Linked DNA regions of Homo sapiens. The protein of the gene in region 2 binds, or shares a complex with, the protein of the main gene of each other region. Each region holds a gene or a part of one and is shown on either strand. Other genes may lie near its edges.

Region 1 (3,600 bases), on a different chromosome or scaffold from region 2:
ATAGCTACAGAAATCAGGCAACAACTTCTCTGAGTCCACTTATTTATCAATAAGATGGATATACTGCTATCTATCTTGTAGAGTTCTTAAAATTCTAGCATAGTAACTAGCATGAGGGAGGCATTAATAAATGTTCTGTCACAAAGAACACTGAGAAGTTCAGCATACAATGAAAGATTTGTAAAGTCAGATAAAGACTATTAGATTTTATCTACTTCTATCCTCAATTTTTACATTCCAAGGATAGCAGCAGAGTCACCTACCCAAGATTATATATACAGCTAGTTTCCGTGGCTGGACCAACACTCACTACCCAGTGCTTTTTCACTACCTACACTAAAACGAATAAAATATACAAACACCGTGATTCACCTCAATACACGTTTGTTTTATGTCGACTTAAAAAACTGAGCACTAAGTGATATTTAATAAAATGCTAAAATTCTTATTTCAATAACTTCAAGCTTTAACAGCCAAACTTTTCATCTAAAGTGTTTCCAAAAGTTTTTCAAGTCCAAATACAATTTTAAATAGGTCCTTTCTCAAGATAGTGAGGAGAAAAAGTCGTGATCTTTTCACTGGAATCCGATTAGCTGTTACAAATTAGTTTGCTGAATACAATTATATTCAGACTACCCTTAAAAGGAAACCATGCTTTAAAACCACCTTCCTAGCTCCCAAAATAGTGTCCTGTCACTTGAACTGTATATTTTATTTGGTATTCTAAATACATTCTGAACTTCCAAAAGAAAGTAAAACTAATTTACTAGAAGTACCAATGGAGTGTATTGGGGGGAAGAGGGCACAAAAGGGGGTGTTTCCCTTTTAAAGACATTCCCTTGCAAAGTACCATATGGATTATGTATGAAATCCCAATCAGAGTGCTCCGAAAACACTCCAGTATGAGAGAATGCGGTTTTACCTTTCAATTCTCTTATTCAAAATGCTGTCAGGACAGAACAGCACAGGAACACTATCTCCCAGTTTCTGACTTTATTTTTTAAAGAACATCCTTAGTATAAAGGACGTATTAAGAACTGTTAGAAATTGTACCAGCTCACAAATGAGGAGACTGACGATGTTAAGGAACACCTAAGAACTATGGAAATGAGATAAAGCGTCAGCGAGGGTTTCACTTTGATCTGATGCATCGTTTCGTGTCGTGTAAGTCCTCTAAGATGAGCAAGAGAGCTGAAGGTCCGATCACCCCAGCGTGGACCCAGCTGGCTCTGCTCTGCCAACCTGGGGACCAAATATCCTGTGATCACTTCCTTAGTCCAACAGTCCTAGCAAGAAGAGAGTGCTTGGCGCCTTGAAGAGGTGAAGGTAAAGTGAAGAATCAACCAGCCTATGTGATTAAAAGGAAGTCAACCAAACAGCCCATGCCCACCATCCCCAGATACACCCCAAGCCCCTTCCCCTACACATACCTCTCCTACAAACCCCTGCTCTGGTGGTGTAGGAACCTCTAAACCCACCACACTTCCCCGACACAACTCCCCTTCCCACAGGTATCCACGGTCACCTTCGCGGACCATCGCTGCCCCAACCCCAACTTCTCGCCCCACACTCCCTCGCCACAGAAGCCTTCCCGGCCGGTCTCCCCACTCCGCAGCCTCCCACACACGCGCCCTCCCCACTTTCTCGCCCTCGCTTCCCTCCCGGCTCTCGAGGAGCTTCCCCCGACCTCCCCTCGCTCTCCTCCACGCCCCCGAACACTTTCGCCCCTCCACCGCGGGCTCCCCGCCTCCAGTCTCGAGGCCCGGCCCAGGCATGTGGGGCAGGCACCTCCTCCACCGCCCCCCAAGCATGGCCCGGCCCGGGGGCTCCCGCGTTGATGGGAGCCTCGGAGACAGGGGGTCTGAGGAGAACGACGCCGGACCCGCGGTCCCTCCACTGCTCGCCGACCCCGGAGAGCTGGAGTGTGGAGTCGCCTCTGGGGTCCCCCAGGGAGTAGGAGTCTAGGCCGGTGCCCCCCAGCCCCATTTCCTCCCGATCGTTGGAGCGGAGGGGAAGGAGGATCCCCGGGACTCACCTCGAGCCTGTTGTCAACATTAGCCCCGGGTTTCCCAGCACCAACTCCAGCGCTCGGGCTCTCCCCTCCCCTCCCCCCACCTATCTCGCAGCCGAGGGCCCGCCTTCCCTCAGCTCCCCCTCCTCCCTCCGCCCGCCAGCCCTCCCGCCCGCCACTCACCAGCGCGGCCGGGCTGAGAGTGGGGGCGGGGCGGAAGGAGGCGAGAGGGAAAAGGCCATCCGCGCGACTGCCCGATTAAAAACAGTCCTGATCGTCTTCCCTGCGGCATGCCGATGCCCTCAGCTTGACTCTGGGGTGGCGGGTCCGGGGCAAAGGCTCATATGAGTGCCATTCACTTAACAGCTCTTTCAAATTCCCCAGTCGATGAGAAGAGCGAATTTTTCAGACTGGCAATACGTAAGGTAGCCACTACCAGCACCTCAAACCAGGGCCCCAGCGGAGGGGTGGAGTGTTCCGAGGACCCGAGGCAGGAAGTGGATTGGTCGCCAGGAAAGGGAAAGCGCCTGAATTGGAGCTGCGCAGGCGCAGGCGCTTCGCGGGGGATGGGGGTGGGAAGCGCGAATGGGGCGGGGCGGAGCTCACGGGAGGCGAGGAAGTGTGGTGGAATAGTGGGAGGGTTACGGAGCGCCATTAAGGACAAGCCCGGCCACGTGATTCTCCTGGGCGTTTCCTGGTGCGAACCTAAGGAAGAGGTCTAAGAAGAGAAAGTTTGATTGGACTAATTCGAGGGGAGACGTTGAAGATTTAGAAAATTGGAAACTGGAGAAACTAAACCATATGGCTGGTTTGGGAGGTGGGAGTCGCTTAGGAATGGGTCTAGTCTTAAGAATGCCCTAAAAGACATCGAAAGTCCTGCGGGGGGATTTCCAGAAGCACTTCTAGGTGTTCGACGTAAAAACCACCCAGGGCGAAGAAGAATCAAGGCTTTTTCCATACACTTCTTAGAAAGTACCTGGTTCTAGCAAGCAAACTTTTAAAAATTACAGTGGCAAGACTTCCCTGAGTTATCAAATCACCCATTTTAAAAAAAAAATGGCTAGCGTCGACATTTCTTCTGAATGCGAACCCAGGCCGACTTTCAAAAATGGGTATCAGTTTATCCACACTGCTTATTTCCTCCTGAATTGCTGAAATGGTGCATCTGGCCTCGAAACAGTACTGGGTTCTGCCAACATGATCCGAGTAGGTGGCTCTGGCTGGTCCGGAGCTAGAGGAACAAGGGTGCGAAACTGGTCTTGACGTTTGCTTGACTTGAGGGGGCCCCACCTGGTGCCCAAGCCCACGTAATGAACTACTACCAACCACAAATACTTGAGGCAAGTCCAGGTTCCCTATGACTCAACCTTTGCCCATTTGCCTCTATTTACTGTTTGCTTCCCCATTTACTCTTAGCACGCAAATTATCCTCTCATACTGAGTGTTGCTGCTTCCTGTATTTAAAAATATATATTTTTTATACACTACACATAGGTCAGTCATTTAAAGGATAGTGAAAGAGAAAGATGAAGGCCGGGCACGGTGGCTCACGCCTGTAATCCCAGCACTTTGGGAAGCCGAGGCGGGCG
Region 2 (3,823 bases):
CATGTTGATATAACTTAATGGGAAACAGCCCACAAATTTTAAGTGATAGGCAGATCGTTTCTGTTGGGACTGTTTTTATGTAGTACTTGGAATGACAAATACCTTGGTCACCAAAGGAGAGATCCATTGCAGGAATAATTTTGCCTTGAGCCTGAGAATAACATACTTATGATGGTACAATTATCTTGCCATTAGAGATTAATAACAAGAATTATTTGGCATTTGATTTAAAAATCTAAAGGCCTTATACAACCAAATAGTGAAGTTCCATCTCTACTGAGTAGGAACTCTGTATTTAATGCCATATTTACGCATGTTCAAAAATGCCATTGTTTTTTACATTGCTGCTATGAATCTCTCGAGAATACCTCCAAGTGTCGGATAATCAGAGAGATTCTTAGGCAAAATAGAAGAATTTCAAGTCTCAGAGTGAAGGTATCACACAAGGTTCATCTCAGGGTGAAGGCATCATGTAAATTACTAAGCAAAAGGCAAAGCACCACAAGACATAAGCACAAAGCATTTTGGCACACAGACAGCCACTGCAAATGGTGAGTCCAAAATGGACACTGAGAAGGCACCAGTGTAAAATGAGGATACCATGTGCAGGTTTCATTGGAAGTGCTCTTATTTCTCCAATGAACATCCTTATTAGAAACCAAGGTGTTCATTACTCTAATAAGAACATTAATGAATGTCTCTAGCATGGCTGGCTCTACCTTCTGCCTTGCTGATTGTTAGGAATAGCAAGTCAAGTCACTTGTGGCATAGCAGACAGAGAGATTGCTGGAAAGAATTAAGATGAGAAACTCCATCCTCCCCCAAGCCCCTCATCATCAGTAATGAGCCCCGTAGAGACTTAGGGAACCCTTGCTACATAAACTGCTGAGTTTTCAGGAAATAAAATAAGGAGACCCTGCCACCCTCTCTGTGAGATTTTCTTTGACTTTATCTGAAGTGCTAGGTACTAGTACTTCCCCAGGAAATATGTTGAAACAAGGGCTGCCCAAGCCATGCCCTTAGAAGGGAAGTGGCAAGGTTGGGATCTTTCTGCAGGTTTTCTTCTTCCCAAATGCAATGCATGAATCCGAATCTGCTGCTCACAGATTCCCAGATATATGCAGGAAGATACTACGGGAGTCATGTGAGAGGGAAAGGCACATATTGCAGGGTATTTATCCCTAGTCCTCCCACAAGGCAGCCAGTTATGAGAAGCATATAAGAAGATGAGAAAGAACTATATAGGCATGGTTGTCCTCTGGCTGTAGGTCAATGAAGCTTCTGGGCACACAGCAGAGCATCAGGAAGTCACCTGGGCTTCCTTTTAAAGTAGAAATTTATAATAAAATAGCTCAGCTTTTAAGAAGACTCAAGTCAACCTGAAGGGGTTTTCAACAAGTAACACTACCACCACCACCACCAAAAGGACTTATTAGCTAAGACCTGTGTGTGTGACATGATACTAGATGCTCTGTATCATGTACTTGGTCCTTACATTTTTCTGATTCACAGCTTGTAACAGAAACCTGTGTACCTGAAGACAGTGGAAAACAAACAGATGAGGTAACTTCATGTATCAATTATGAAGAAAAAGCTGAAAAAAAACCATAAATCATGCCAGCCAGCCCTAAGCCCTCATTTACTATGAATTTAGAGGACAATAGTCTAAAAATCCAACATTTTCAATGACAAAAACAGCACAGATCTGCACTGAAGAAATAACATACTACTTTATCCTTTTAAATGATCTTAAATTTAAAAACTAATACTATTACAGGAAAGATTTTTATTGGATCACTTCCCCCCAAAAGAGAACAAAAACAAAACAAAAAATTCATTTACACCAACACAAGACGCATGCATATTTAAAGAAGTAGATACGTGCAATTTTTAGCAACATGCAGTCAGTTTCAACATTCTTATACCTTAATCTTTGGTTCATCCTTTAATTTGTCCCTTTCTGGAATTCTGTCTATCTTCTTTAGCTTTTCTATATCTTTCCTTTTTCGTTTCTCTTCTTCTTTCCATTTCCTCCTCTCTTCTTCTCTTTGTCTTTTTCTTTCTATTTCTCTCCTCCTCCTTTCTTCTCTCTTTTCTTCTCTCATTCTCTAGAAAGAAACATCAACACAAGCCTTCAAATAAAATAATCATCACCAAAACCCTAATAAATCCTGAAGTCATGGTAGGCCCCAACTGAATAATCTTTCCTTCCTACTTTCTACAAAGTGGCATTCTACCACCGTTATCCCCACTCCACCCAGAAAACGAAAGACAATGAAGACCAGAACCTGCTAATATTATTCTTCCACTGCTGCCTTACTATCTCTCCAGAGGCTTTCAGAATATCAAATGAGTGTCTCTGGGACAACCTAAGAACATTCCACGTTTGTAGAGTGAACTCCTGGTCCAACAACCAGAGTGAAGGAGCAGGCTAGAGAGTGAGACCAAGAAGGCAAATCCTTAAAGAGTAATGGTGGAAAAAGCAGCTATTTCTCCTCTAGAAACCCAATGCTCTTAAAATGTTTATAGAATGCAAAGCAAAGAAATTAAAGTATTGAGAGAACTATAAAGACAAAAGATTTACCTGCTTGTTTTTCAGGAAGCTCAAAAGTGGGGTTGTCTTTTTAGCTACATAAATGTAAACAGATTATTAATCATACTTATCAACCCCTAGAAACGATTCCATTTTCTGACATTCCCTGCCAACCACCCAAGGTGGGAAAACATGTACACCCCTTATGCAGAAAGATCACAATTGTAATATCAGAAAGAAGTTTTACAGCATTCGATTTCAACAATACGGGATTAAAATACCTTTTAAAAAGTAAAGAAATTCAAATTAAAACAACAAAATAATTTATTAAAAGAGTCATTCCCAACTGATGAGAATTAAGTACTTAGGACATTCTCTTGTTTTACTGATAGGAGTGTAAACTTGTTCAACTGGAAGAAGTTGGGGGGAAGGGGCTAAAAATATCTAATCCTTTTGACCCCATAATTCCACTTCTGGGAATTTATTCTAAGAAAGTTACCAGAAATAGGCTTGTACTATCCATCTATTAATAAAAGTCAAGTTTTGGAAGAATATTTTTCATTTTCAACATTCTGAATAAGCTATTGGCCTTACAGCCATCTTAAAACACATATTCCTGGCCGGGCACAGTGGCTCATGCCTGTAATCCCAGCACTTTCAGAGGCCAAGGCAGGCGGATCACTTGAGGTCAGGAGTTCGAGATCAGCCTGGCCAACATGGTGAAACCCCGGCTCTACTAAAAATACAAAATTGGCCGGGCGTGGTGGCGGACACCTGTACTTCCAGCTACTCGGGAGACTGCGGCAGAATCGCCTGAACCCAGGAGGCGGAAGTTGCAGTGAGCCGAGATTGCGACACTGCACTCCAGCCTGGGCGACAGAGCAAGACTCCATCTCTCACACACACACACACACACACACATACACACACACACACACACACACACAGAGAGAGAGCGAGCGAGCAAGCAAGCAAAAAAAACAAACAAACAAACAAAAAAACCCCACATATTCCTTAGGATAAATTCCTGAGTAGAAATCCTGGGTCAAAGATTATGCTCATGTTTAGAGCTACTGATACAGTAGTGACAGCCTATTACTGAGAACCAAGATCCAAGCTAGAATTCCTCAAGTAGTTTTCAATTTTGCAGTAACTAATTTCATTTTTTCGTATTTTCAAGTCAAAATTTTTTTAGGAATATGAACTTATTACTAGAAAATACCAATTGACCTTCAAAGGCTTACCACTGTCTAAACATTCCTTATCAGTCATCGAACTTTTTGTATTTAT
Region 3 (3,483 bases), on a different chromosome or scaffold from region 2:
CAGATACGGACATTGAGGCTGGCACTGGCCAGAGCTGTGGTGGGCATCACTCCCCACTGCTGCTGAGCAAATGCCCTGAACACACCTGTATCTGGTTCCTCCTTGCCAGGAACTCATTAAGCTGCCTGGGCCTGTAGTCTCGTGCTCCTCCCGCTCGGCCAGCAGTGCCACCTGGGAGTCTTGTTACCTGCAGGTTCTCACTCAGCAAGCCAGGACAGGGCCCGAGCACTTGCATTTCTAACCAACTCCTGATGATGCAGCTGGTCTACCAGCCACCAGCTGGCTAGCAAGGGTCCAGTCACAGTTTCAGTGAAAGGAAGTTCCATTCATAAACTATAGAATTTCAGATGCCTTCAAGTAGAATCACCTGATGAAATTTAAAAATTATTTCCAAGCTCACCCTAACCCGGAAATAAAGATTATCATCCCAACTAATTTCAGGAAGGGAGGGGCCAGTTTTAACATTTCCATTTCAAATATTAGAGCCCGGTCTGTGGCTCATGTGTGTAATCCCAGCACTTTGAGAGGCTGAGGCGGGAGGACTGCTTGAAGTCAGGAGTTTAAGACCAGCCTGGTCAACAGAGGGAGACCCTGTCTTTAAAAACATTTAAAAAATTAAAAATTGGGCAGCTGTGGTGCTGTGTGCCTATAAAGCTACAGGTAATTACTTTAAATATTTCAACAGATAACTTAAATACTTTAATAATTTAAATATTTAAACAGATAATTATCTGTTTTAGTTTGTCAACATTGTGGTAAGTCATGATCCTGCCACTATACTCCTGCCTGGGCGACAGGGAGATCCTGGGCTCTCAAAAAAACAACAAAAAAAAAAAATTAGAAAAATGAGGCCAGGCATGGTGGCTCACACCTGTTATCCCAGCACTTTGTAAGGCCAAGATGGGAGAATCACTTAAACCCATGAGTGACAGACCAGCCTAGGCCACAAAGTGAGACCCTGTCTCTACAAAAAATTTAAATATTAGCCAGATGTGCTGGCATGCACCTGTAGTCCCAGCTACTCAGGAGGGTGAGGTGAGAGGATCGCTTGAGCCCAGGAGGTTGTGGCTGCAATGAGTTGTGATGGTGCCACTGCTCTTCAGCCTGGGCAGCAGAGCAAAACTCATCAACGATGAAACTCTTTCCAAAAAAAAAGATTAGAAAAGTGAGTGAAATGGGCCGGGTGCAGTGGCTCACGCCTGTAATCCCAGCACTTTGGGAGGCCGAGGTGGGTGGATCACGAGGTCAGGAGATCGAGACCATCTTGGCTAACACGGTGAAACCCCGTCTCTACTGAAAATACAAAAAAATTAGCCTGGCATGGTGGCGGCCGCCTGTACTCCCAGCTACGTGGGAGGCTGAGGTAGGAGAATGGCATGAACCCAGGAAGTGGAGCTTGCGGTGAGAGGAGATCACGCCACTGCGCTCCTGCCTGGGCAACAGAGGGAGACTGTCTCAAAAAAAAAAAAGAAAAAGAAAAGAAAAAAAGAAAAGTGAGTGAAATGACCCAAGACTACACAGTAAGTTACTAGAGAAGGTGGTGGCACCTTAGAAGTATAGAGTTTATGGGAAAAGTTTTAAATTTTTAATGAAAAAGACTTAGAACAATGTATTATTTACATGTAAATAAGAAAAGAGAGCAGAATCCCCATATCCTCTTCAAAGGAAGGGAGACGGCAGGCCATTTATGAGAAGAAAGTCCATATAAACCCCATTAAGTAGAATCTGGATCTAAATACTTCCAAACAGGAGTACACAGCAGGTGAACAGTCTCCCTCATCCCACTGATCTGCTGCTTCAGATAAGATCAGCAACTGAAAGTGAAGAAAGAAACAGATTAAGGAACAACACAAACAAAATGAAAATTTGTTAACGTAAATTTAACTAAAACCTCACAACAGACTTCTCAAAACAAAAAACAGGCCAGACATAGTGGCTCACGCCTGTAATCCCAGCACTTTGGGAGGCTGAGGTGGGCAGATCATTTGAGGCCAGGAGTTCGAGACCAGCCTGGCCAACATGGTGAAACCCCGTCTCTACTAAAAATACAAAAATTAGCTGGCTATGGTGCACGTGTCTGTAATTCCAGCTACTCAGGAGGCTGAGGCAGGAGAATTGCTTGAACCCAGGAGGCAGAGGTTGCAGTGAGCCGAAATCGCGCCACTGCACTCCAGCCTGGGTGACAGAGCGAAACTTCGTCTCAAAAACAAAACAAAAAAACCCACAACAACAAAAAAACAAACTCAGGTGCCCCAAACTAAGAATAGGGAAGTTCCCTCTACAATTACAGTAGAGCTGGACGATTTCCTACCGTTCATCGGCATCTCATCAATCTGAGTGGAATAGTACTGCTCGATATCTCTGAGGATGCGGATGTCGTCATTCTTTACAAAGTTAATGGCCACACCCTTCCGGCCGTATCGACCTGATCTCCCAATTCTTCAGGAATAAAATAATATTACAGTTAGTATATATAACAATCAAGATTTAGTAAATGTGTCACAGAAGTGAAGCCAATGAGAGCTTGCACCTTACCTGTGTATGTACAATTCTCTGTTATTAGGGAGATCATAGTTAATGATGAGGGACACCTGAGGGACATCCAACCCCCTGGCCCAGACATCTGTAGAAATAAGCACTCGGCTGCAAAAAGAAAGAGTGTTTGAGGCGATTAAATTACTCATACAAGTGTAAGACTGGACTTGCTTCCATTGCTAATTTTAAGGAATCCTGGCTGCAGGTCCAAAATATACGAGATTCTCCTCTCTCAACAGTCTGTCTGCAAACGTGAAGCCTCAGGGACAGCACCAGAAACCCCTGTGCAGAGGGGCTGTTGGTGGATTTAGTTACTTCGGTCATGTGCTCCATCAGATTAAAAAAATAGACATCTTTTACTAGACTATCTTTAACTTGTTTAATCGGTCCTAAACCAATAATTGGGAAAAATACTTCACTTTTGCCTAGCAAAAAATTAAAAACGGTAACTTCAGCCGGGCATGGCGGCGGCTTATGCCTGTAATCCCAGCACTGCCAGAGGCTGAGGCAGATGGATCACCTGAGGTCAGGAGTTCGAGACCAGCCTGGCCAACATGGTGAAACCCCATCTCTACTAAAAATGAAAAAAAAAAAAAAAAATTAGCCATTCCAGCTACTCGGGAGGCTGAGACACAGGAGTCACTTGAAATCAGGAGGCAGAGGTTGCAGTGAGCCAAGATTGTGCCACTGCACTCCGGCCTGGGTAACGAAGTGAGACTGTCTCAAAAACAAACAAACAAAAAAAGACACACACAGCACATATGTTAAGCTGACCACAAGGTGGGCAAAGAAGGAAGTCTGAATCAAGTTCAAATGAATGAAACCACCCAATCCACGCTTTCTGACCACTGTGGAATTAAACTAATCGAAACGATGAACAGAAAACCCCCCTACTTACTGGAAAAGAAGACACACGCTTGTAACCAAGGTGACCAACCTGGCTAGTTA

What was found.
Region 1: the proteins of UPF3B (region 2) and UPF2 are in contact, whole or in part, in a crystal structure (PDB 7NWU), measured with the Homo sapiens proteins. Residues at the interface, in NP_542199.1 of Homo sapiens: Lys52, Arg56, Arg57, Tyr79, Glu81, Phe83, Asn85, Asp86, Thr87, Ser88, Leu89, Tyr90, His92, Tyr94, Arg96, Tyr98, Ile130, Glu132, Pro135, Phe136, Lys138, Ala139, Ala140, Arg147, Asp148, Lys150, Val151, Gly152, Thr153, Ile154; in NP_056357.1 of Homo sapiens: Lys767, Arg768, Pro769, Pro770, Leu771, Glu773, Tyr774, Lys777, Lys790, Arg793, Gln794, Arg796, Lys797, Leu798, Pro799, Trp800, Gln801, Cys811, Ile814, Asn815, Trp817, Tyr837, Gln838, Glu839, Asp840, Ile843, His844, Val846, Asp847, Gly848.
Region 3: UPF3B (region 2) and EIF4A3 share a complex: the UniProt entries of both Homo sapiens proteins name them as parts of the mRNA splicing-dependent exon junction complex.

Annotation. Positions count from the first base shown.
Region 1 is NC_000010.11:12,040,720-12,044,319, forward strand, and holds the start of UPF2 (regulator of nonsense transcripts 2), read right to left. Parts: upstream 2,091-3,600; 5' UTR 2,036-2,090; intron 1-2,035. UniProt on the Homo sapiens protein: Involved in nonsense-mediated decay (NMD) of mRNAs containing premature stop codons by associating with the nuclear exon junction complex (EJC).
Region 2 is NC_000023.11:119,839,151-119,842,973, forward strand, and holds part of UPF3B (regulator of nonsense transcripts 3B), read right to left. Parts: intron 2,629-3,823; coding exon 2,585-2,628; intron 2,109-2,584; coding exon 1,926-2,108; intron 1,535-1,925; coding exon 1,496-1,534; intron 1-1,495. UniProt on the Homo sapiens protein: Involved in nonsense-mediated decay (NMD) of mRNAs containing premature stop codons by associating with the nuclear exon junction complex (EJC) and serving as link between the EJC core and NMD machinery.
Region 3 is NC_000017.11:80,133,693-80,137,175, forward strand, and holds the end of EIF4A3 (eukaryotic initiation factor 4A-III), read right to left. Parts: intron 2,644-3,483; coding exon 2,536-2,643; intron 2,440-2,535; coding exon 2,312-2,439; intron 1,815-2,311; coding exon 1,798-1,814; 3' UTR 677-1,797; downstream 1-676. UniProt on the Homo sapiens protein: ATP-dependent RNA helicase. Involved in pre-mRNA splicing as component of the spliceosome. Core component of the splicing-dependent multiprotein exon junction complex (EJC) deposited at splice junctions on mRNAs.